4 linked regions of the Homo sapiens genome follow. The protein of the gene in region 4 purifies or fractionates together with the protein of the main gene of each other region. This does not show direct contact. Each region holds a gene or a part of one and is shown on either strand. Other genes may lie near its edges.

The links.
Region 1: the proteins of TXNDC11 (region 4) and RBL1 purify together in Homo sapiens (affinity purification with mass spectrometry; 3 studies listed by BioGRID and IntAct, with this or other methods). This does not show direct contact.
Region 2: the proteins of TXNDC11 (region 4) and USO1 purify together in Homo sapiens (affinity purification with mass spectrometry; 3 studies listed by BioGRID and IntAct, with this or other methods). This does not show direct contact.
Region 3: the proteins of TXNDC11 (region 4) and C1QTNF9B purify together in Homo sapiens (co-immunoprecipitation; one large-scale study listed by IntAct). This does not show direct contact.

What each region holds. Positions count from the first base shown.
Region 1 is NC_000020.11:37,032,474-37,038,260, forward strand, and holds part of RBL1 (retinoblastoma-like protein 1), read right to left. Parts: intron 3,036-5,787; coding exon 2,769-3,035; intron 404-2,768; coding exon 192-403; intron 1-191. UniProt on the Homo sapiens protein: Key regulator of entry into cell division. Directly involved in heterochromatin formation by maintaining overall chromatin structure and, in particular, that of constitutive heterochromatin by stabilizing histone methylation.
Region 2 is NC_000004.12:75,796,310-75,802,096, reverse strand, and holds part of USO1 (general vesicular transport factor p115), read right to left. Parts: intron 2,476-5,787; coding exon 2,365-2,475; intron 1,747-2,364; coding exon 1,628-1,746; intron 1,480-1,627; coding exon 1,298-1,479; intron 1,019-1,297; coding exon 897-1,018; intron 1-896. UniProt on the Homo sapiens protein: General vesicular transport factor required for intercisternal transport in the Golgi stack; it is required for transcytotic fusion and/or subsequent binding of the vesicles to the target membrane.
Region 3 is NC_000013.11:23,893,437-23,899,767, forward strand, and holds the start of C1QTNF9B (complement C1q and tumor necrosis factor-related protein 9B precursor), read right to left. Parts: upstream 4,067-6,331; 5' UTR 3,982-4,066; intron 3,791-3,981; 5' UTR 3,686-3,790; intron 3,571-3,685; 5' UTR 3,551-3,570; coding exon 3,385-3,550; intron 1,207-3,384; coding exon of another isoform or gene 1,075-1,206; intron 766-1,074; coding exon 703-765; intron 1-702. UniProt on the Homo sapiens protein: Probable adipokine. Activates AMPK, AKT, and p44/42 MAPK signaling pathways.
Region 4 is NC_000016.10:11,734,092-11,739,878, reverse strand, and holds part of TXNDC11 (thioredoxin domain-containing protein 11), read left to right. Parts: intron 1-3,645; coding exon 3,646-3,862; intron 3,863-5,787. UniProt on the Homo sapiens protein: May act as a redox regulator involved in DUOX proteins folding. The interaction with DUOX1 and DUOX2 suggest that it belongs to a multiprotein complex constituting the thyroid H(2)O(2) generating system.

The sequences.
Region 1 (5,787 bases), on a different chromosome or scaffold from region 4:
ACGGTAGTAATAAAGCTGCACAACAATGTGAATGTATTTAATACCATTGAACTGTACACTTAAAAATGGTTAAAATGGTAAATTTTGTGTTATGTATATTAGAAAAAAAAAAGACCAAAGTCTGTCTCTGTTACTCAATCTTTCTTCCATTGATTAAACAAATTCTTCTAAAGTGCTATAAAAACACATACCTTTCTGTAAAATAGTGCTAAGGACCCAGTTCTCTTTGGCCTGTTTATTCCAGTTGAATGTACCTCTTGTGCTTTAGTCAGATTGGTCTGTTTTGGAGAAGCACCAATTAATGAATGAGCAGTAAGTGATACAGGACTCTTGACTTTGGACTCCTGATTTGTATTCATGGAAAGAGGTATCAGTGTGATCTCTCCAGCATCATTTGCGACACCTGAATGTATAAGCATTATTAGAAATAATCTGCATATGTTCTAGGAAAGTTGTCAACTATATATATTTTGACAATTATATATACATATATCTGTGTGTATAAGAAGGCTACAAAATAGTAATTCTAGGTTATGACTGAATTCTTTTTTTTTTTTTTTTTGAGACAGGGTCTCACTTGGTCACTCAGGCTGGAGTGCAGTGGCGCCATCTCAGCTCACTGTGGCCTCGACCTCCTGGGCTCAAGTGATCCTCCCATTTCAACCCCCGCAAATAGCTGAGACTACAGGTGCAAGCCACTATGCCTGGTAAATTTTTTTTTTTTTTTTTTGAGATGGAGTCTTGCTCTGTCGCCCAGGCTGGAGTGCAGTGGCGTGATCTCGGCTCACTGCAACCTCTGCCTCCCGGGTTCAATTCTCCTGCCTTAGCCTCCTGAGTAGCTGGAACTACAGGCACATGCTACCACACCCGGCTAATTTTTAAAATATTTTTAGTAGACACAGGGTTTCACCATGTTAGCCAGGATGGTCTCGATCTCCTGACCTCATGATCTGCCCTCCTCGGCCTCCCAAAGTGCTGGGATTACAGGAGTGAGCTACTGTGCCCGGCTTGTATTTTTTTTTTAGAGATGGGAGTTTTGCCATGTTGCCCAGGTTAGTCTCGAACTCGTCAGCTCAAGCCATCTGCCTGCCTTGGCCTCCCAAAATGCTAGGATTACAGGCATGAGCCACTGCAGCTGGACTTTTTTTTTTTTTTTTTGAGACAGTCTCACTCTGTCACCCAGGTGGGAGTGCAGTGGCCTCATCTTGGCTCACTGAGACCTCTGCCTCCCAGGTTCAAGCAATTCTCCTGCCTCAGCCTCCTGAATAGTTGGGACTACAGGCATGCGCCACCACACCCGGCTAATGTTTTTTCTCTATTTTTAGTAGAGACGGGGTTTCACCACGTTGGCCAGGCTGGTCTCAAACTCCTGACCTCAAGTGATCCACCTGCCTCAGCCTCCCAAAGTGCTGGGATTATAGGTGTGAGCCACTGTGCCTGGCGCCCCCCGGGCCCCCTTTTTTTTTTCTTTTTCTTTTTTTTTTTGACAATGTCTTGCTCTGTTGTCCTGGCTGGAGTACAGTAGCGTGATCATGGCTCACTGTAGCCTCAAATTCCTGGGCTCAAGTGATTCTCCTGCCTCAGCCTCCTAAGTAGCTGGGACCATAGGCATACATCACCATGCCCAGCTAATTTAATTTTTTGTAGAGATAGGATATTGCTATGTTGCCCAGTCTGGGTCTCAAACTCCTGGGCTAAAGTGATCCTCTTGCCTTGGTCTCCCAAAGTGCTGGGATTACAGGTGAAAGCTACCATGCCCCGCATAAATCCTTATTTTCTAGAAACAAGAATATTCGGTTTTGTTTTTATACTTTAAATTTATGGAAAAAAAAGCAAATTTTGTTCTCTATTTTGTATTTGCCTGGGATACATTTATAGTTTAAATTTATTGGAAAAAAAAGCATTTTTTTTTTTAACATTTTGAGCACTTGAGCTGTTAGTCAAAAAACAGAATTTTTGCTCAATACATACATATTGGAAAGCTCAGATAAGAACATTTTAAAAGTAGTTTGAGACCTGGGCAACATGGTAAAACCTCATCTGTACCACAAATAGAAAAAATTAGCTGGGAGTGGTGGCACTTGCCTGTGGTCCCAGCTACTCAGGAGGCTGAGGTGGGACGATCACTTGAGCCTGGGAGCAGAGGTTGCAGTGAGATGAGATCATGCTGCTGTACTCCAATGTGGGTGACAGAGTGAGATCCTGTCTCAAAAAATAAAAAAAGAAGAAAAGAAAAAGTAAAATAAGTCTAAACAAACAGAGAGGGTAGTAAATTTATAAAATTTAAAAATAAAAAAAAAACCACTATAGGTTCAAAACAAAAAGGTGGGGCACAGAGGATTTATAGGGCAGTGAAACTACTCTGTATGGAGCTATAGTGACAGATACATGTCATTATACGTTCTCAAAATCAATAAACTATTCACCAAGAGTGAACCCTAATGTAAACTATGGGCATTGGGTAATGTGTCAGTAATGTAGGTTCATCAACTGTAACAAATGTAGCATTCTGGTGTGGAATACTGATAATGAGGGAGGCTTTATATGCCTCTGGTTGGGGAAGGGGGACTATGAGAAATGTCTGTACCTTCCTCTGAATTTTGCTGTGAATCTACAACTGCTCTAAAAAATTCAAATCTATTTAAAAAAAAAAAGTATAGGTTCAAGAAAAAATAATGAGTTAGAAAAACCATGTGATCTAATCCACTAAGACATTTCTTAAATTTTTATCTCAGAAAAAGTACAAAACAAATGCACTATAACGTTACCATGTAATGGAATTGTAACTTTATGTCCTGTTGTTCCTGTTACTGGGGCTGTGGCCATTGTTAGAAGAGTTTGACCAGGTAAAATTGATACATTTTCAGCAGTAATGCTTGAAGAAGGAGCGATTTTCAATTTTGTTCCTTCTGTTATGATCTTGTCCATAAGCATTTCCTTTGGGGGGTCCTCTCCAAAGAGTCTTCTCTTAGCACTCCCTGCGGTAGGAGAACTGTAGCGTTCATGGACAGAAATTGGAGACAATGGTTGCATATCTAAAAAAAAATAATAAATTTAAAACAGAAATGTATTCCAAAATAATAAATTAGGTTTACTCATTCACTCAACAGATAGTGAGTTACTTATGCTGGGCACTAGCTAGATATGAATAACATGGCCTTTGCCCTCATGGAATATGTAGTCTACTGGGAGAAAGAGGCATGAAATAAGTCACTACGATAAAACGTGAAAATTATGATCACTCATCTTCCTGGTTTCTTGAACCTCTGCCTACATTAAAGGAGCAAAACATTAAGGACAAAGTAGAGGTTGAGAGGTAGAATGAAGTGAGCACTAAATTTTAGTAGTAGTCCAATATCTCCCAATCTTACCTAGTAGAGAGCACCTGAGAAGAAGGGAAGCAAAAGCAAAAATCAGGAATTTGGGTCACAGTTTTGCCTCTTTGTGAATATTTGCACTCCAAGCAGTTTAAGGCGGTAGCTCTGGCTTTCTAATTTAGTAGATATGGAATCATCTTTAGTAAATCTATCAGAAGATATGAGTAAAGATGATATAAATCTGCTTACCTTGCCTTAATCTGAGGGTTGGCAGTACTGTGTTGATCAAAAATAAAGTAAGGATTATGGATTTTGCCTCTCTTCCTGTGCTATCCTTTCACAGGATCTGCTTTCCATTCCCTCTCTACCAGCTGCACGGGTTTTTCTAGCCCCTTACAACCCTACATCTTTTCTACATCTTTTTTCACAATTCTTCCCTCAACCAATTATTCCTTACAGGTAGGTCAATAATATGCTTTTAAAACAAAAGTATTTATTTATTTATGAGATGGAGTCTTGCTCTGTCACCCAGGCTGGAGTGCAGTGGCACGATTTTGGCCTACTGTGACCTCTGCCTCTTGGGTTCAAGCGATTCTCCTGCCTCAGCCTCCCAAGTAGCTGGGACTACAGGCATGTGCCACCATGCCTGGCTAATTTTTCTATTTTTAGTAGAGACAGGGTTTTGCCATGTTGGCCAGGCTGGTCTTGAACTCCTGACCTCAGGTGATCCACCTGCCTCATTTGGGATTACAAGCTTCAGCCACCGTGCCCGGCCTTCATTATTTATTTTTACATTCACTAGATAATTAGATAGTCATGTAATCTATTTTCTTTTCTTTTTTTTTTTTTTTTTGAGATGGAGTCTCGCTCTGTTGCCCAGGCTGGAGTGCAGTGGTATGATCTCAGCTCACTGCAAGCTCCGCCTCCCAGGTTCACGCCATTCTCCTGCCTCAGCCTCCTGAGTAGCTGGAACTACAGGCAACCGCCACCATGCCCGGCTAATTTTTTGTATTTTTAGTAGAGATGGGGTTTCACCGTGTTAGCCAGGATGGTCTCGATCTCCTGACCTCGTGATCTGCCCGCCTCGGCCTCCCAAAGTGCTGGGATTACAGGCGTGAGCCACTGCGCCTGGCCCTGTAATCTATTTTCAAAACATGTTCAAAAGGTATGAAAATGACCCCTGGCAATGATTTAGAAGCTCTCTGTATTAGTGAGGTGATTGGGAAAATAGTTATAGTTTAATAAAAATCTCCGTAATTCTTGGGCTTATGAAAGCAGCTTTTACTTCTCCTGTCTTCAGTAAACAAGTGCAAATTTCTATAGTTGTTTCCATTACTCTTTTACAAGAGTCCATGTGAATGCCTTATATCTAAGAAATCCACGCAAGCCCTTGAATCTGACTAGGCATGTTTAAAGGTGACATTTCAAGGCAAGACTCGAGTTGAAGCCATAAAGTTAGCTGCAAATCCATTGAAATGATCTTTTCTTAGCACAGTACTGGAACAGCTATGGTGGATGCTCAATAAGAATGTAATGAATATACAAATGTAAAGCGGATCCAAATTTAGAAACATGACAATCTGTCAAGGTACAGAAAAGATGCTCACTTAGTTATAAATTATATGAGAGGAAGGTGGCAAGCACAGTTTAAACTATTCTTGCTAAGTTTTTAAAAAAGAAAATAATTCTCAATATTTCGTAAGTTTTAAATTATAGTATACTAAATATTTTTACTATTTTTTCATTTCTCTAAACATTAATAACTGACAGAAAGAAGAGCCTTTTTTTTAACATTTTGACAAGATTCGTAAAGATCAAAAAACAATTATAATAATTATAATTATTCCCACTGATTAAAATGACTGAGTATTCACATCTTATGCAATCTTGTTTTTTTTTTTTGGAGACGGAGTCTCACTCTGTCGACCAGGCTGGAGTGCAGTGGCACAATCTCGGCTCACTGCAACCTCCGCCTCCTGGGTTCAAGCAATTCTCTTGCCTCACTCTTGCCTCAGCCTCCCAAGTAGCTGGGACTATAGGCGCATGCTGCCATGCTTGCCTAATTTTTTGTATTTTACTAGGGACCAGTTTTCACTGTGTTGCCCGGGCTGGTCTTGAACTCCTGACCTCGTGATCTGCCCGCCTCGGCCTCCCAAAGTGCTAGGATTACGGGTGTAAGCCACTGCGCCCGGCCATTGTTTTTTTTTTTTTTTTTTTTTTGAGATGCAGTCTTGCTCTGTCCCCAGGCTGGAGTACAGTGGTGCGATCTCCGCTCACTGCAAACTCCATCCCTTGGGTTCAAGCAATTCTACTGCCTTAGCTGCCTGAGCAGCTGGGATTACAGGTGTACACCACCATGCCTGGCTAATTTTTGTATTTTTAGTAGAGACAGGGTTTCACCATGTTGGCCAGGCTGGTCTCAAACTCTTGACCTCAGATGATCCACCTGCCTCGGCCTCCCAAACTGCTG
Region 2 (5,787 bases), on a different chromosome or scaffold from region 4:
TAATCCCAGCATTTCGGAAGGCTGAGGCAGGGAAGGGAAGGGATCACCCGAGGTCAGGAGATCAACACCAGCCAACATGGTGAAACCTCATCTCTACTAAAAATATAAAAATTAGGCAGCGTGGTGGCACACGCCTATAATCCCAGCTACTTGCGAGGCTGAGGCAAGAGAATTGCTTGAACCTGGGAGGCGGAGGTTGCAGTGAGCCGAGACTGCGCCACTGCACTCCAGCCTGGGAAACAAGAGCAAGACTCTGTCTAAACAAAAAACAAACTAATCTCAGTAATGTAGATTGTGAGGAAGAAAATAAGATATAAACAGTTGTCAATTTAAAGGGTTCTATCTATGCTTTTACTTGCCACACCTGCCATAAACTGTGCACAATTAGTAGACAGGTGTGGAGAGCAGTAGAGGGAAGGGGATGAATCTGTCCCACAGGGTCTGCCACTATTGTATTTTTTTATGACACTGGAATTTTAACAACATTAATAACCTCATTTTTCAGCACTTTCTAGAATTCCAATCAAGGTAAATATCATAAGAAATTAAATGAGAGTAAAAGTCAAGAAAACATTTTGAAGGAATATAATGAAGGTTTAGGGTACTCAACACAATGCAAGTAATGAAAGTTCACTGGTATCCTGGAAAGAAAATGTCAACTGATGATTCCGCAATTGTAGTTTCATCTTTATCCACTCATCATTATCTAATAAATCAGCTGCATGGTGCTTAGCACATATTAAGCACTCTGTTTGTTGAATACTCAGATGCTTTGAAAAATGATGGGTTTTGCTTTCTATATCCTCTTTCATTTGAAATGTCAGAAAAAAAGGCTCCCTTAAAGCAGAAAGTGCCTATTGGTAATCAGAGGGTATATACAGTTCATTAGTACTTACCTGCTCTCGAATCATATTTTTGTAGTGAGTCACAATATTGTCATGCTGTTCTAATGTTTTTTTCACCTCTTCTTCTTTTTTATCTTCTTCACTGGACTTATAAATAGCCTTAGTTATAACACCTATAAAAGGAAGCTTATTTAAAATTTGTTTTAAATGTTTTAAATACTATTTTACTACTAAGACTTAGTAAAAACATATAACCTAACTCCATGATAGGTAAGAAATAATCTTTTCAATCCTACTGAAAGCCAAATGTCCTTCAATGGGCTACAGATCAAGAGCTAGGAAGAAAATATACCTTTAGAGTTACCATATAACCTGTATGCATCCAGAATATACATGTACAATATAAATATAATTACTTTCCATCAAATATCAATATAAATCTTCAGTCTTACCTTCAAGTTCTTTTACCAGCTTCGTAAACTCATGATCAAATATCATGTATTCTGGACTGGGAAAGTTTGGCTGGGGTTTCTGAGATGCTCTGGAATACAACTCATGTTTGCTAATAAATCCTAGTTTCTCTATGAAATTCTCTTTGCCAATCCTCTTCTCAATCAGTTGTTTTAGCTTCTCTCTACGGAGATAAGCATATTGAGATGCTTTAAAAAAAATAAAATCAAAACAAAACATAAAAGCTTGGTCTACATAATGCTTTGGCAAAAAAAAAAAAAAAGCATCATTATCTCTTGATGCCATTAGAAAACCATCTTCCCCTTACTTACTTCATGTAGCTCTCAAGTGAGTTATCATTGAAATAAATCGAAATGCCCAACAAAAGGGCACATAAGCCTTGGACCAACTGCTCTTCTTCTCCAAGATTTTCTGCAATTTGTCCTGTAAGCTGAAATCTTTGTTAAGGAGGCTAAGGATTGAAAATATCTAGTACATTTTGCAATTTGAATTTGACATACATTAATACTTCACATAAGAGTTCCCATAAGAAATTCCATATATAGGCTAGGTGTGGTGGCTCATGCCTGTAATCTCAGCACTTTGGGAGGCCAAGGTGGGTGGATCACCTGAGGTCAGGAGTTTGAGACCAGCCTGGCCAACATGTCTCTACTAAAAATACAAAATTAGCCGGGTTGTGGTTGCGCACACCTGTAATCCTAGCTACTCAGGAGGCTGAGTGAGGCAGGAGAATTGCTTGAACCTGGGAGGCGGAAGTTGCAGTGAGCCGAGATCGCGCCACTACACTCCAGCCTGGGCGACAGAGCAAGACTTCATTTCAAAAAAAAAAAAAAGAAATTTCATATATATATTCCAACCCGGCATAAAACAAACCACACACACACAACTTAAACAAGCATCATAACAACTTTAACAGTTTAAAAAGTTGCAACACAGATAAGATAGTGGAGAATTCAAATATTTTGGGCATAGAACTACTTCTAATTGAGGAGAAAAACTAAAAAAGATATAAATACTTACATGTACGTTACTAAAACATAAAGGATACAAATGGAACATTGGCTGAATTGTGAAGAAAATGCGTTACTGCAATGGGACAATTGCTTAGCCAGGTACAAAGCAACATTAATAATCCAACTCTTGTTTGTATTTTGCTTCCCTGCAACAGATAAATTGGTAGAAATCTTTCCATTCATTTTATATTTTTCAAACTTAAAGTTGCCCTAAGATCCCTTCCATTTGCATGAAAAGAACTTTAACATCTTACAAGAGATGAGCCAGAAATCCAGTTTTAAAAAACTAAACAAGAGAATAAATTATTGTATGCACCACAGGCTGCACTTCCTAAAATGAACAGAGTGCAGAAATTAGAACTGATTCATGTTCAGAGGCATATACTGGGTTATTTAAAATATGATTAGTTTAAAAACCTTGTCTGCTAAGGAAAAAAATCAGTGTGGAGGCTTTAAAATAATCTATTAATCCCAAGACCCTTTACAATAAATTTGCCAAGCAAATTTATGATATTTCAGTCACAAGTTTAAAAACAAGTTCCTGATAAAAGGAAAATTCTACTTCCTTCAAAAAAAACCAAAAAACAAAAAAATCAAGAAAAATGCAAAAAATAATCCCCTGAATCATTTAGTCAAATTCCATGAGAGAATATATTCTCTAACAATAAATAAACCATACTACAAATTCAGTCATCACACACCAGATGAGAAATCACAAACATAATCAAGAGGAAGATTTAAATTAGCCAAGTGCCCCCAAACCATTAACAGCTGCCAAGTATAGTTAATAATGAAAATTAGCATATCCAGCAAAATTAGTTTTCAAAATTTTAATACAACACATTTACATCTCCTAGGTAGAATATTCTCTTAGTTCACAATATTGACAGTGCCCATATTTATATTCCTATAACCTGTATCTTTTTTTAAAAAAACAAAACAAAACTTGTTTGAAATAAAATAATGAAAATCAGAATAGTAATGCATCACTTTGGGGAAAGTCTCATAAAATGTCCGAAATATAATTCAAAGATCTAGACAAGGAATGAATTTAAAGTAATCATCACTGTGTTCCGAAAAATTTCTACCACCCAGACTATTCTAATTTCACAAACCTTGATGCCAATATCTTGACTCTTCTATAATCTATTTTTAGGTATATTTAATATTGAATTAAGTTCAAACAGGACCTCTTCAAATGATTTGCCAGGTAAGCACTGATACAAATTTAGTTTTTACATGATGCATTATTTTTACTGTTTCCTTGCCTCTACGTCATTACCATGCCCACAATATATCTTCAAGTCATCCATGTAAATTGGAAAGTTAAAAACCAGTCACTGCCAACTGACTATGTGCCACAGAAAACTTACAACTACTCGAGTTACAAATGCAAATGTTTTGTTCATCTACCTGGTTATATATAAGTTCATTATTACTTAGCATAACCATTTGCAGGTACCAAATATACCCACAATGTATATATAAGAACATCCTATCAAATCACTGGCTGATGTATGAGTAAAAAAAAACAGAGTAAGATTTAAATCAGAATCTTCTAAAAGCATGGCTTTTGGGGTCTAATTGAAGGATAAGAAGAGCAAAGTCAAATATAACCAGTTAAAAGACAGAATGAAACACTCCATTTATTACAGAGACAAAAAAAGATAAAGTACTCAGGAGTGAACCTAATCAAAATGGTATAAAATCTAAACAAGGAAAATTTTAAAACACTCCTAAAGAGCACAAAAGTGGACATAAACCAATAGAAAGCCACCATGTTCTTAGATAGGAGACTCAACATCACAAAGGTGTTAATTCTAAGTTAATTTATAAAATTAATGTGCCTGTAATCCCAGCACTTTGGGAGGCTGAGGTGCGTTGGATCACCTGAGGTCCAGAGTTCGAGACCAGCCTGACGAACATGGTGAAACACTGTCTCTACTAAAAATACAAAAATTAGCCAGGCGAGGTGGCGCGCGCCTGTAGTCCCAGCTACTCAGGAGGCTGAGGCAGGCGAATCACTTGAATCTGGGAGGTAGAGGTTGCAGTGAGCCGAGATCACAACACTGCGCTCCAGTCTGGGTGACAGAGTGAGACTCCATTTCAAAAAAAATAATAATTGTAAAATAAATTAAAAATAAATAAATGAATAAAATTAATGTGATTCAAATAAAAATTACTAAAAGGCTTTTTTTTTTTTTTTTGCTTCTGGAACAAAACAACATGATTCTGAAGATCATATGAAAAAAGTGAGATTAACTAGGGACACTGTAAAAAAAAAGAAAAAAGAGAGAATAATGGATCACGAACAAGCAGGAATCAAGAGACAGAATACAAAAATCCAGAAAAATGGGCCCATATACAAATGAGAATTTAATATATGAAAAAGTAGCATACAACTATCAGTGAGTTACAAATAGACTTAAAAGATTTTGGGACAACTGGAGAGCTATCTAGAAAAAGATCAGTGGATCTGTATCTCATACAGTTCGCTGAGAAAAACAGAACAAAGAATTAAATGAAAAAAAAAGAAACCAGAAAGTATAAGATAAACATTGAAGTATAATTCCTTATAAAGTCTTTTTTGGGGGGATTGGAGACCAGGTCTCGCTCTGTCTATCAGGCTGGAGTGCAGCAATCATAGCTCACTGCAGCCTTGAACTCCAAAGCTCAAGCGATGCCCCCACCTCAGCTTCCAAAGTGTTAACATATAGGTGTGAGCTACCATGCCTGGCCTAGTAAATTCCTTAAAATCTGAACATGGAAAGGCCTTTTCTAAGTATGACTTAAAATGCAGAAGCCATAAAAGATAAGTCTGAGAAAAAAAAAAATCCATAACAAAACACCAAGGTCAAAAGACAAATGACATACCAGAAAAAAAAAAAAAAATCTGTAACTCATATTAAAAACAAGGGTTAAGTATGTTAATATAAAATGGGCAGAGGATATAAATAAAAGGAAAAGTACACACCTCTTTTCAGAGCCCCTAGAGTGTGTGAACCATTGAGGAGATTTGAGAAAACAAATGGAGGCTAAAACTGTAATTTGAGAGCATTCTCGGGGGTAATTATAAACCACAGATTTTACACGATAAAAGAGAACTACAAACAAAATATTTGAAGCTGCGGGCTGGGCGCGGTGTCTCACACCTGTAATCCCAGCACTTTGGGAGGCCAGGTGGGTGGATCACCTGCGATCATCAGGAGTTCGAGACCAGCCTGGCCAACATGATGAAACCCTGTCTCTACTAAAAATACAAAAATTCGCTGGGTGTGGTGGTGCGCACCTGTAATCCCAGCTACTCAGGAGGCTGAGGCAGGAGAATCGCTTGAACCCAGAAGGCAGAGGTTGCGGTGAGCCAAGATCGTGCCATTGCACTCCAGTCTGGGCAACGGAGTGAGACTCCGTCTCAAAAAAAAAAAAGAGCATGATGGAACTTTCTGGGATTATGAAAA
Region 3 (6,331 bases), on a different chromosome or scaffold from region 4:
GCAAGCAAAACAAACATGGTTGACATTTTTTTTGTTTTTCTGGTTTTTGTTTGTGACAGGGTCACTCACTCTGTTACCCAGGCTGGAGTGCAGTGATGAGATCATGGCTCATGGCAGCCTCAAACTCCCAGGCTCAAGTGATCCTCCCATCTCAGCCTCCTGAGTAGCTGGGACTACAGGCATGTGCCACCATGCCTGGCTAGTTTTTTTATTTGTATAGACAAAGTCTTACTATGTTGCCCAGGGTGGTCTGGAACTCCTAGGTTCAAGCGATTCTCTTACCTGGGCCTCCCAAAGTGTTGGGATTACAGGTGTGAGGCATGGTGCTCGGCCATGGTTTGCATGTTTAAATGGTCACAAATAATATTCCACAATACATGGAAACCATGGGAAATTCCCATTTCAGTCTTCACACATATGGTGTCACTGGAACAGAGCCATGCTTATTTATGGAGCATCTACAGCTTCTTTTCACTACAAGGGGAAGTTGAGTAGTGGTGACAGATCTGTGTGGAGTTGAGAATATTTACTACCCAGCCCTCTGCAAAGCCTGCCAATCCCTGCAGAATCCCCCCATCTGGAGAGTAAGAACTGTGTTGCCTTTATTATAAGATTATAATCAGCATGGAGGACTTGTCCATGGTAATATTGTTAAATAGTCGACAGCTCAGAATTAGAGCACCATAAATAGGAACTACTAACCTCGTTCTCCCTTCTCTCCACTCGTCCCATCCTTCCCCGGGCTGCCAGGACATCCTGGTTCTCCTAGGTGGAAAAGCAGAAAACAGGCATGAGTTGAAATTCCATTTCTGATTTTTCTGGCCATTGGTCTCCATCAGCCATGTGTTGGAGAGTCTGGGGGTGACCCCCGCCCTGACGGGCACTCTGTCCTCCACACGAGCGCAGGTGGAGAGAGGCAGGCATGAGCGGGCATCTGGGGTGCTGAGCTGCGTGGGATAAGTGACCTAAGAAATGAACTGAGTGACTTCCCAAGCGCCCATCTCTAGGACGTGCCTAGAGCGCACAGCAAGACAGGACGAAGAGGGAGTGTGTGCAATGGGGACTGACTGTCACAATTGATTGTGTTCCTCTCCTGCGACAAGGACTTGGGACGTGGTCTGAATGTTGGAGGTGCGAGGAGGTTTCCTCACTCTGTTTCTCTTCCATTACTCTTGAGGAGAGTGGAATGGAAGATTTACTAGGCTCCTATGAAAACACAGATGACTATGGTTACGTGACACTATCCCAAGATAGAAGAGAGAGTTCTGGAGGGATCCCTCTAGTGCCTTACACTGGGGGAAATGCTACTAATCGAGCTGGCAGAGAACATCAGGTGAGTGGGGCTCTGCTGACTACACTCAAGTCCTTGTGCTCAGAACAGGCCCCCCTGAGCTCCAGGTCGGCGTGCTATCCGTCAGCGGGTTGAAGGTGGCTCTGGCTATGGCAGTAGAGTGCTCATTGGGCCACAGCTCACCCCAGACTCTGGCTTCTCACAAAGCAGCAGAGACTCCCATACTTCAGACCCACTGACGTGGCTGTGGGGCGACAGGCGCAGGCTGGGCCGGCTTGCAGGTCCTGAGACAGGACTGACACAGGCAGACTTATTTCTGTCACGATGTCTGTTCTCCTGGGACACCAGCGCTCCTGAGTGGGGCCTTGGTCAGCGTGGGACCTCTGAATGGAGGGGGCTTATCCCTACATTTGCCCCTCCCTGCGCTCCCCTTCCCTCCCCTCTACTGGCTGCTCCCCTGTGTCTTCCTCTCCTTCCCTCTTTTTGTTCCCCTGCTTGGCTCTCGTTTCTCCCATTCTCTAGAGCAGTGGCCTCTGAGCTTTCATGATCACGCACCACAACTCACAAAGCATGAACACAGACCCCAATCAGTAGACATTTATATGTTTCTACATTATGCACAGGTAGTATATGAAAAATATGTTTGGTATAAAACATACACAAAAATACACTTTAAGATGGTAAGATAAAAATGAAGTAAATTTTTAGTGTGAGCAATGTGATTGAATGTCCTTCTAAGAAAGAATATATATTACAAATAATACTTATGAATTACATAGAAAAAATAGATATAACATTTGCTTCTAAGAAGTATGTAAAACTTGAAAGAATGGACATTGGTGAGCAGAGGAGAGAAATTCAACACGGAAGAGGTAGAGAAATTTGGTATTGAATATAGAAGTGTTTGTCTTAGTTCTCTGTATTTTGTATCACCTATTTATCTCCTTTTATGTGTAATATTTTATAACAAAAATTTAAAAAATGAAAATCCTAAACATTCAGAAATAAAATACACACAGACACAGACATACACACACACACACACACACACACACACACCACTGTGGTCACAGTGTGAGGGCAGAAGACCTGATTTCATTAAGGGTAAGGTTTTAGTATTCATTTGGACTGGGCTATTTGCTACCGGGGGACTGGAACAGTCTCAATGAGCTGGAGATGTGAGGAGCCAGGAGAAGACACCTCACAGAGCAGATGTGCCGGTTAGAAAGAAATAAAGTTGCTTCCTGGTGACCCTTGGCTTCATCCAGCCCATTCAAAAAACTATCAGGCCACCAAATGCCATAAAGTGAGACATGTTAGAAACACAAACTTATTTGTAAAAAGGTCCATAGAAGTTTTGATATTTTCTTTCTAATGCCACTGAACTGTGCTCTTAACCCAGTGAATCATTCTGCATAAGTCTTAGATATGTGACCCTATGGTCAAGACCAGGCCTCAAGAATGGTACCCCATTCAGAAACCAAGTCTATTGGTTGTTGTTATGGAAAGCACTCAGACTTCCAGGCTTTGGCAAATCTCCCTCCCAGAGGATGGATTCTGTCCCCAGATCCCCAGACCCTGCCTAGGTCATAGATTCATAAGCAGCAGCTGTATGTGTCATCTGTCACTCCGCATCTCCTGCTTCATGACATGATATGGTATTAGCTCTCACCTGCACTGCAGCTGGGTGCTTGCTGCCAAATAATTCATGATCAGATCTCTCTATTGGCCTCGTGTTGCCAAAAATCCAACATACCTGTCACCTGAGGTGGGAGGATCCATGACATTGTATACTACTGAAAATGTCCTGCGGTGTCAGAGATGAGAGAACCCAGGAGGGCAGGGGTCATGGCGATCTGGCCCTGTGCTCTCCACCAGCACCTGGCACAGAGTCTGGCATGGAGCAGACCCCGTGAGTGTTGCTGGGCAGATGGGTGGATGGATGAATGGGGTCAGGCTCCAGTGAATGTTGCTGGGTGGATGGATGGATGGGTTGTGAGTGGGTAGGTGGAAAACCACACAGATGATGAGTGAATGAGATGAAAGTAATGAAGAGAGAAGCTCAAAGGCAGCCGAAGCCGTCAGGTGAGTACCTGCATCGCCTTTGTCACCCTTCGCTCCGTCTCGTCCATCTCTTCCAGGCAGACCATTGTGACCGGGGTTCCCAGGGATTCCAGGGTGCCCTTGCCTGCAGGTGTCCTGTGAGTTTATGTTCCCTGTGCAGATTTCAATGGCAAGCAGAAGCCACCAGATCCTCATGGTTCAGATGACAGACTGAACTGAAAGAGGGAAACAGAAACCCAGAGGAGAAACCTTTGTTGCTGGGGCCCTGGACACAGCCTCCGTTCTGTGCAGTGGGAAATGGATGAGCTGTCCCCTGCCCCAGACCCACACCTGGACAGACTTGGCAGAAGACTCAGGGCAGGGGAGCAAGCTGGTTATTACCAGGATGACATTGTCCTTGGAAGGTAACACTTGTGATTGGAACCACTCTTCAAGCTGAACGGGCAATAAAAAAAAGCCAAGTTTAAGGTCAGGATACTCTTCCGTTCATCATTTCACTTTGAAGAAATCACTTCTCTTAACCACAGACCAATGCTTACTTATCTCACAGGACTATTGTAAAAATCAAATTTTATCACAATATGCATAAAGGCACATGACAAATAGTGAAGCAAACATAGCATTACCATCTGATCCAGCAATTCCACTGCTGTGCATCTACACAAAATAATTGAAAGCAAGGACTAGAACAGATGTCCATGTTCGTAGTTGCATTATTTTCCATAGCAACCCAAGGGTCCCTCAGTGGATAAACAGATACATGCAATGTGGTAGGTCCATACAATGGAATATTCTTCAGCCTTAGAAAGAAAAGAAATTCTGACATGTGTTACATGAATGGACCTCGAGAACATTATGCTAAGTGAAACTAGCTAGTCACAAACAGACAGACCTGGATAACTTCAGTTATAAGAGGTTCCTAGAGCCGTCAAACTCATATAAAGAAAAAGTAGGATGATGGTTGCCAGAGGTGAAGAGAGAAGGAAATGGGAGTTGTTTGATGGGTACAGAGTTTGGGAAGATTTTAAAAGAGTTCTGGAGATGGGTGGTGGTGATGGTTGCACAACAAAGAGAATGTACTTAATGCCACTGAACTGTGCCCTTAAGATGGTTAAGCTGGTTAGTTTTATGTTATATATTTTTTTTACCACATTAAACAATTAAATTAAATTTTTAAAAAAGTAAAGCATTCCAAACAGTCTTACTGTAATGAGAGGTATTCTTTGAGTCAGGGTCTTGTTTTTCTAGGAGGCCACTGTGAAGAAGGGCCACACACACAGAAAACATCACCTAGTTCGGGAGAAGTGCATTTTCAAGTCCTTTCCTCTGTAGACACTGCCCCCACCCCAGGTTATCCATGCAGTTTCCCCCGCAGCAGGAGCTAAGACAACGCTTGGGCAGTGCTCCAAACGGAGCAGCAAACGCAAGGCCTGGAAGGAAGATGAAACGTGGATGGCTGGGCCTCCTGACTCAGCAACGCTCCCACTCAGGGCTGTGGAGCACCCTGTTACTCTCCCACATGGCGCTTGTCATGGCAGGGGCTTGACACTTGTTTACATAATTGTAGGATGAAGAATCTGACTCCCCGCCTGACTGTATTTCCTCATTATTGCCTTCCCAGTACTCAATATTAAACTTGGAACAGCAGATTGAACAAATACTTGTTGAATGAAATTAATGTATCATCATGGGAGATGTCTTAGGATATATATATAATTTTTGGAGACAAGGTCTTGCTCCATCACCAAGGCTGAAGTACAGTCATGCAATCACAGCTCACTGTAGTCTCAACCTCCCAGCTCAAGTGATCCTCCTGCCTCAACCTCCCAAGCAGCTGGGACTACAGGCATGCACCACCACACCCGGCTAATTTTTTTTTTTTTTTTTTTTGAGATGTAGTTTCACTCTTGTGACCCAGGCTGGAGTGCCATCTCTGCTCACTGCAAACTCCGCCTCCCAGGTTCAAGCAATTCAGCTTCTCGAGTAGCTGGGATTACAGGCGCCATCACCACGCCCGGCTAATTTTTGTATTTTTAGTAGAGACGGGGTTTCACCATGTTGGCCAGGCTGGTCTCAAACTCCTGACCTCAGGTGATCTGCCCGTCTTGGCCTCCCAAAGTGCTGGGATTACAGGCATGACCCAATGCCACTGGCCCTAATTTCTCTTCTCTTCTTTTCTTCTTTTTTCCTTCCTTCCTTCCCTCCCTCCCTCCCTTTCGTTTTCTTTCTCGCTTTCTTTTTTTTTTTTTTTTTTTTTGAGACTGGGTCTAACTCTGTTGCCCAGGCTGGTCTTGAATTCCTGAGCTCCCACCTCAGTCTCCCAAAGTGCTAGTATTACAGGCTAAAGCCCCTGCACCTGACTTTTAGGATTTAAAAAATTAAAGTAAAACAAAAACGTGGGCCTAGTGCAACTGGTCAGAACCCAGATCCTCTCACAGTGCTGATAGCCACGTAAATCTGCACATCTTTCTGGAAAAGTTAAAGAGCAAAAGACATCTATGTCTTTCACCCTGTATTCCTATCCCTAAAGTTCTTCCTAATGTTCCAAAACTGTGTGCCAATTGTGTGCCATTACCTGCAGCATTATCTATAACAGGTGAAAAAGTGCATACTACATACTATGTAACAATAGGGGAAAGGTTTACTATGTGTAATAGTATGTAACTGCTGCAATAATCATGAAGGTCATGTAGAAATATGTGAATGATATATGTTGTGCTGAATTTTGATAGCAGACTAAAATGCCATGCACATTATAAATGTACTTAACGACTGTATGAATATTGACAAAAACTCAAAGTGAGTATGTGCAAATAAAGATGGTTGCTTTAGAATGCGGGGCAGTTATGGGAGCTTTTCATTTAAAAAATGCTTTTTTATAGTGCCTACACAAATATTTCTAGATTTTGAAAACCAGCAAGACTCTCTGTCATCCAAAGACTGTATTGCCATCTGGTGGAAATGTCACAGGGTGCA
Region 4 (5,787 bases):
CAGCTCCAGGCTTGAAATAAATGTCTGCTCTTTTCAATGTCTGTGGCTTGGCTGAATTCAAACCAGCTAATATGGAAAAGGTTGATTTGAGGTTGAGCCACAGTGAATAATCGTGCGTTTCTGGGCATCTAATCTTTACTTACCTGTGTCTCTTCATCCTGCTCACCTTTCTTTTACCTTGATTTAGAGGGAAAAAAAATTGTCTGTGTGTAGATACATATGTATGTATACATGTATTTATTTTGCTTTATTCCATTTTGTAATTTCAAAGCTGCCTCGAATGGTCTTTGCAAGGAAGTGATGTAGGGTGTGAATTTCATAGGAAAATTGGGGTTTCAACAGGCCTTTTTTCTATGTTGCCCCGGCTGGAGTGCAGTGGCTATTCACAGGTGCAATTATGGCATGCTGCAGCCTCAAACTGCTGGGCTCAAGTAATTCTCCTGCCTTAGCCTCCTGAGTATAGTAGCTGGGACTATAGGCACATGCTACTGGCTCAGCAACAACAGGCCTTCTTATTTGCAACCAACTCGAGTTTTTTGTACCCGAGACATACCCCTCATAGCTGCAGGAAATCTTTGCTCTATGTATAGTTTCTCTAAAGCGTGAAGCAGATTGATGAGTTAAATAGAAACTCACCAGTGTTTCTGATGGAGTAGAGGCGAGCGTTTCTTCTCCCTGGCCAATATTTGATTTTTGATTGGCCTTGTACTTTATCTGGCTCATTTAGGAATGCTTCTGAATATGCAGAGCAAAATTACTGAGTTGCTCTTTATCCTTTCGTTGACTGTCAGACCTACATTTTTCCTCAGATTGCATTATTTGATGCTTACATTGCATTTTTTTTTTCTTTTGAGATGGAGTTTTGCTCTTTTTTCCCAGGCTGGAGTGCAATGGCGTGATCTTGGCTCACTGCAAACTCCGCCTCCCGTGTTCAAGCGATTCTCCTGCCTCAGCCTCCCAAGTGGCTGGGATTACAGGTGTGCACCACCATGCCCAGCTAATTTTGTATTTTTAGTAGAAATGGGGTTTCCCGGTGTTGGTCAGGCTGGTCTTAAACTCCTGACCTCATGTGATCCACCCGCCTCTGTCTCCCAAAGTGCTGGGATTACAGGCGTGAGCCACGACTCTTGGCCATGTGCAGTTTGAATGGTAGAAAAGTAATTTCTCCAAAGAGCAGAATTTTGGATCTCTTGAAAACGTGTCTTTTTTTTTTTTTTCCTGTAGTGCCCTCCCCACCTCTTAGGTGGCTATCTTCTTGTCATTCAGGTCTCAGAGCTTAAATTATAGCACCTCCCAAGCCACCACTCCATCAGAGGAGCTACCATGCCCTTCTGTACATCACCTTGTTAAATTTTTCACATAGTGAGCATTTAGTATATTTTTATTGTTTACACATTTGATGTTTTTCCTGTCTTCCTCCCCTAGAAAGTGGTCTCCTCGACAACACGCAGTGCTAGCTGCCGCAGCCTTAGTGCTTGTGCCCAAAGCACAGTCACAGCTGCTCAGTAAAGAATTTTTGAATAATTGTGTAAGTGATTTTTTCAGGTTATGAAGGCATTCTGCATAGACTGAAAGCTCTCTGATTGAAGGTTAAAATATTAGTTTGAGTGAATAAATAGGTGACTTGCTCCGTTGGATACTTCTGCCTGTTCTGGAATTTCATATAAATGCAGTCATAGTGCATGTACTCTTTAGCACTTTTTTCACTCAGCATAATCATTTTGAGACTCATCCAAGTTATAGTACATATGAATAGGTTTTGCTTTTCGTTTTTATTGTGGAGTAACATTTAAGTAAATGGGTAAGAATATACCCCAGTTTATCATTTTACCTCATGAGTCATGCCAGATTTCTTATGCTCACTATTTACATAGTTTTTCTTTTCCCATCCTTATGCCTTTATCCTGTGTCTTTATATTTAAGATATATCTCGTTTAGATAGTGCATAATTGGGTCTTGCTTTATCCTGTCTGGCAGTCTGCTCCTCCTAATTAGGTTGCTTCCTTTTTTTTTTTTTTTTTTTTTTTGAGAGACGTAGTCTCGCTCTGTTGCCGAGGCTGAGTGCAATGGCATGATCTTGGCTCACTGCAACCTACACAATTCTCCTGCCTCAGCCTCCCGAGTAGCTGAGACTACAGGTATGTGCCACCACGCCCGGCTAATTTTTTGTATTTTTTTCAGTAGAGATGGGGTTTCACCATGTTAGCTAGGATGGTCTTGATCTCCTGACCTCGTGGTCTGCCTGCCTCGGCTTCCCACAGTGCTGGAATTACAGGCATGAGCCACCGCGCCCGGCCTCTCCTTTTATATTTAACGTAATTGTTGAGGTAGTTGGGTTTAAGTCTACCTTCGTGCTCCTTGTTTTCCATTTGTACCGTCTGGCTTTTGTTCTTTTCTTGTTCCTTTACTTACTTTCTTTCTTTTTTTTTTTTTTAGATGGAGTTTTGTTCTAGTCACCTAGGCTGGAGTGCAATGGTGCAATCTCGGCTCACTGCAACCTCCGCCTCCCGGGTTCAAGCGATTCTTGTGTCTCAGCTTCCCGAGAAGCTGGGATTACAGGCGCCCATCACCACGCCCAGCTACTTTTTCATTTTCAGTAGAGACAGGGTTTCACCATGTTGGCCAGGCTGGTCTTGAACTCCTGACCTCAGGAGATTTGCCTGCCTCGGCCTCCCAAAGTGCTGGAATTACAGGCTGAGTCACCACGCCTGGTCTCCTTTACTTTCTTTGGGGTTAATCTCATCGCGTTTTAGGTTTCCATGTTTATGTTCTCTATTTATCTCGTTTAGATAGTGCATAATTGGGTCTCATTTGTTTCTTAGCAAAGCTGCCCTAATGGTTTGTGGTATGTGAGTGTAGATGCATGGACAGCTCAGGGTGTTTACTAGGGCCCTTCTACTTGGTGGGATGCAGCCTGGGCCTAGATCTTTAGGTCTTGATGGGGAAAGTTACTTCTGACCACTTGTTTGTTCAGCGTTCTTTTCTTTTTCCTCCTGATCTGTTTCTTGTGGGAAGCTCAAGTGTTCAAAAAGCCCATTTTCCAGTTAAATAGGCTGTTGCTTTGTTACTTATCTTCATTAGTCTTAGGATTATGATATATATCTGGAGGAATGTATATTATTGTTTAATTGTTACTGTTACCTGAATGCCCTGGATAAGTACAAGCCAACTCCAGCTAATAAGCTTAATGTTTTCTCAAAGTTGAGTTGATTGTAAGCATCTCCCGTGGAAATCTTGTTAATGGTAGTTTACATGCTCCCTCACCGTAATTCTGAGCTTGCATGCTGGTGGCTCTAAAGCCCTGGAGATAAGTGGCTTTTGTGGAGAGCCAGGCTGCAGAAAAAGGAGGATGAAGTCTTTGGGATGTGGGGAGCAGGAATATGGATTATTCAGAGACATCCTTCTCTGCTCTCCACTGCCCTTCCAGCCTACACCTAGGGGACAGAATCTCAGAGAATTGTTTCCAACGTATTATTCATGTCTTGCATTTGCTCAGCCAGATGTTGCCTTTCTAGGGCAGTGATTTTGGGACTCCATTTTCTTATTCAAAAGAGGATTTTCCTTTTAAGCTTCATTCTACTTCCACAGAGCTATTTTTAGAAGAAGATAAACTAAGCAATCTTTTCTGTGTTTGCTCTTTTTTAGTCGAGCAAAAGATGTGATAATACCAGCAAAGCCACCTGTCAGCTTTTTCTCCTTGAGGTCTCCAGTCCTTGACCTCTTCCAGGGGCAGCTGGATTATGCAGAGTACGTTCGACGGGATTCAGAGGTGGTACTGCTCTTCTTCTATGCCCCTTGGTGTGGACAGTCCATCGCTGCCAGGGCAGAAATTGAGCAAGCAGCAAGTCGGCTTTCAGATCAGGTAATGCTCACATTCAGCTTAAGAATCAAATGACTGTCAGTCCTATATGTAGGGCAGGATGTCCCCACAGAGACACCTTGCCCAACGGGCAGACTTTGCCAAGGTGAACTCCAGGAGTCGTTTCTAAGTTACAGAGCTTTCTATAAAGCAACAGAAAGGATTTCCAATTGTGGCGATTGTACTCCAAGGCAAGTGTGGGAGCAGATTCTGAATCTCATAACACAAGCCAATGCTTATCCTGGGGTGCCATACTGTTTGGTTTCAGCATTGAAAAAGGTAGAGGGACTGAAAATCCTAGTTCTTGCATATCCATTTGATACTTGCTAGTTAGGTATTTTAGGTAAGAAAATGTATGTATGATATGACTGCATTGTAACAAGGCCGACCTTTTTAATATATGGACCAGAACTATATTCAGCAGATAAGGAATGCCACCTTTGGGCTAGGTAAGAAAGATATATAGGCAAATAAGTCACCTGTTATGGCAGTGGTTTTCAGCCCAGTGGACCCCAGTTGTGCTTTAGAAAATAAGTATTTTATGATGTCCCTTTTTCTTCCTAAAAAGGAATTCATAGATGATAAAGTTTTCCTATACATGTAATTTCAAAATAATCTAATGCACGGATTGTAACATAGAGGTGAGGGGGGAAGAAAGTAATTTGTAACTAAATGATATATATTTTAGTATGTAAGTGCACAGTCAGAACAGGTCCATATACCTTTATGTAGAATCACTGAATGGGATAGTTACAAACGTAGACTGATAAAGGTGATATGTTGGTGACTTACCTGCCACATGGACATTGCTCTTAGTAATTGATTATCCTAAATGGTGAACAGTCTTGGTAAAATCCTGAACTATGCAAAGCCCTTTCTGCTCTCAGTTTACATAGAAGTTGCATTCCTGAAAAATTCAGTGAACACAAAAAGCATGCTTTAGATTCACATGTAAAATGGAGCTAGGTACTGGGCTTTGATAATAACAGGTTTTCCCCAACATCAGTGTTTGGCAGGCGTTTTGAACTCCTCTGGAATGCTATGGACGACTCTTCCGTGTGCAAAGCAGGTTTGAGTGTAGCAGGACATCTACCAACACCCCTGCCCTACGTATGCACTGTAGCTTCCCCCAGTCATTGTAGCAAGCCAAAAGCATCCCACAGATTTCTAAGACTCTCCTGCTCAGAACCACTGATGTGAAGTAACGTGTGTAGGCAGCTGAGTTCCAGAAGTTCATTTGGAACTGTCATTTGGTTTTTCTTAGAAACTGTGGAGCCTTCCAAATTTAGAGAACAAAGTTCACGTTGCCCATGTTGGGCACAAGAGGGATATCTATTGTGTTTTATTAATAAGTGTGAATTAGCTACCTTACTGTCAGCCTAAGCAGTATGTCCTTCTGAGTGATGGCATTAGTATAATAATAATGATATTCTGGTGTGCCAGGCCCCATGCCAATTCTCAACCACTTTGCAAGGCGATGCTGTCAGCCCTGTTTTTCTGAAGCAGGACTGCAGGCATAAGGGGTGAAGCAGTTTGTTTACCATCACGTAGTGGTGGGGGTTGTAGTGCAATCCAGGGACTGCTGCTTTTTTTAAAAAAAAAATTTCAGCTCCTTCCAAATTGAGAGCTTACTATTCCATGTACTCAGTAGGGAAAAAAGTGGGTTTATTTTTGGAAACACACAGAAATCTTTTGAACTGTATTGCATGGTAAGATTGGTAAACACGGTCCAAGTCCTGCCTGGACATCATAGATAAGAGTATGTCTTTCTTTTTTGTTTTAGTGATAAATTATGACCTTTGAAAACTCAAAACAGTTTTTTTCATAGTTTCTGTTTCAGTGAGAGAGGAATCATTCTATTTTTAAATTTCATCTTTTAAATCTTGGTAACTTTTCAGTTGTTATTCATAGTCATTTGAAAACCTTTT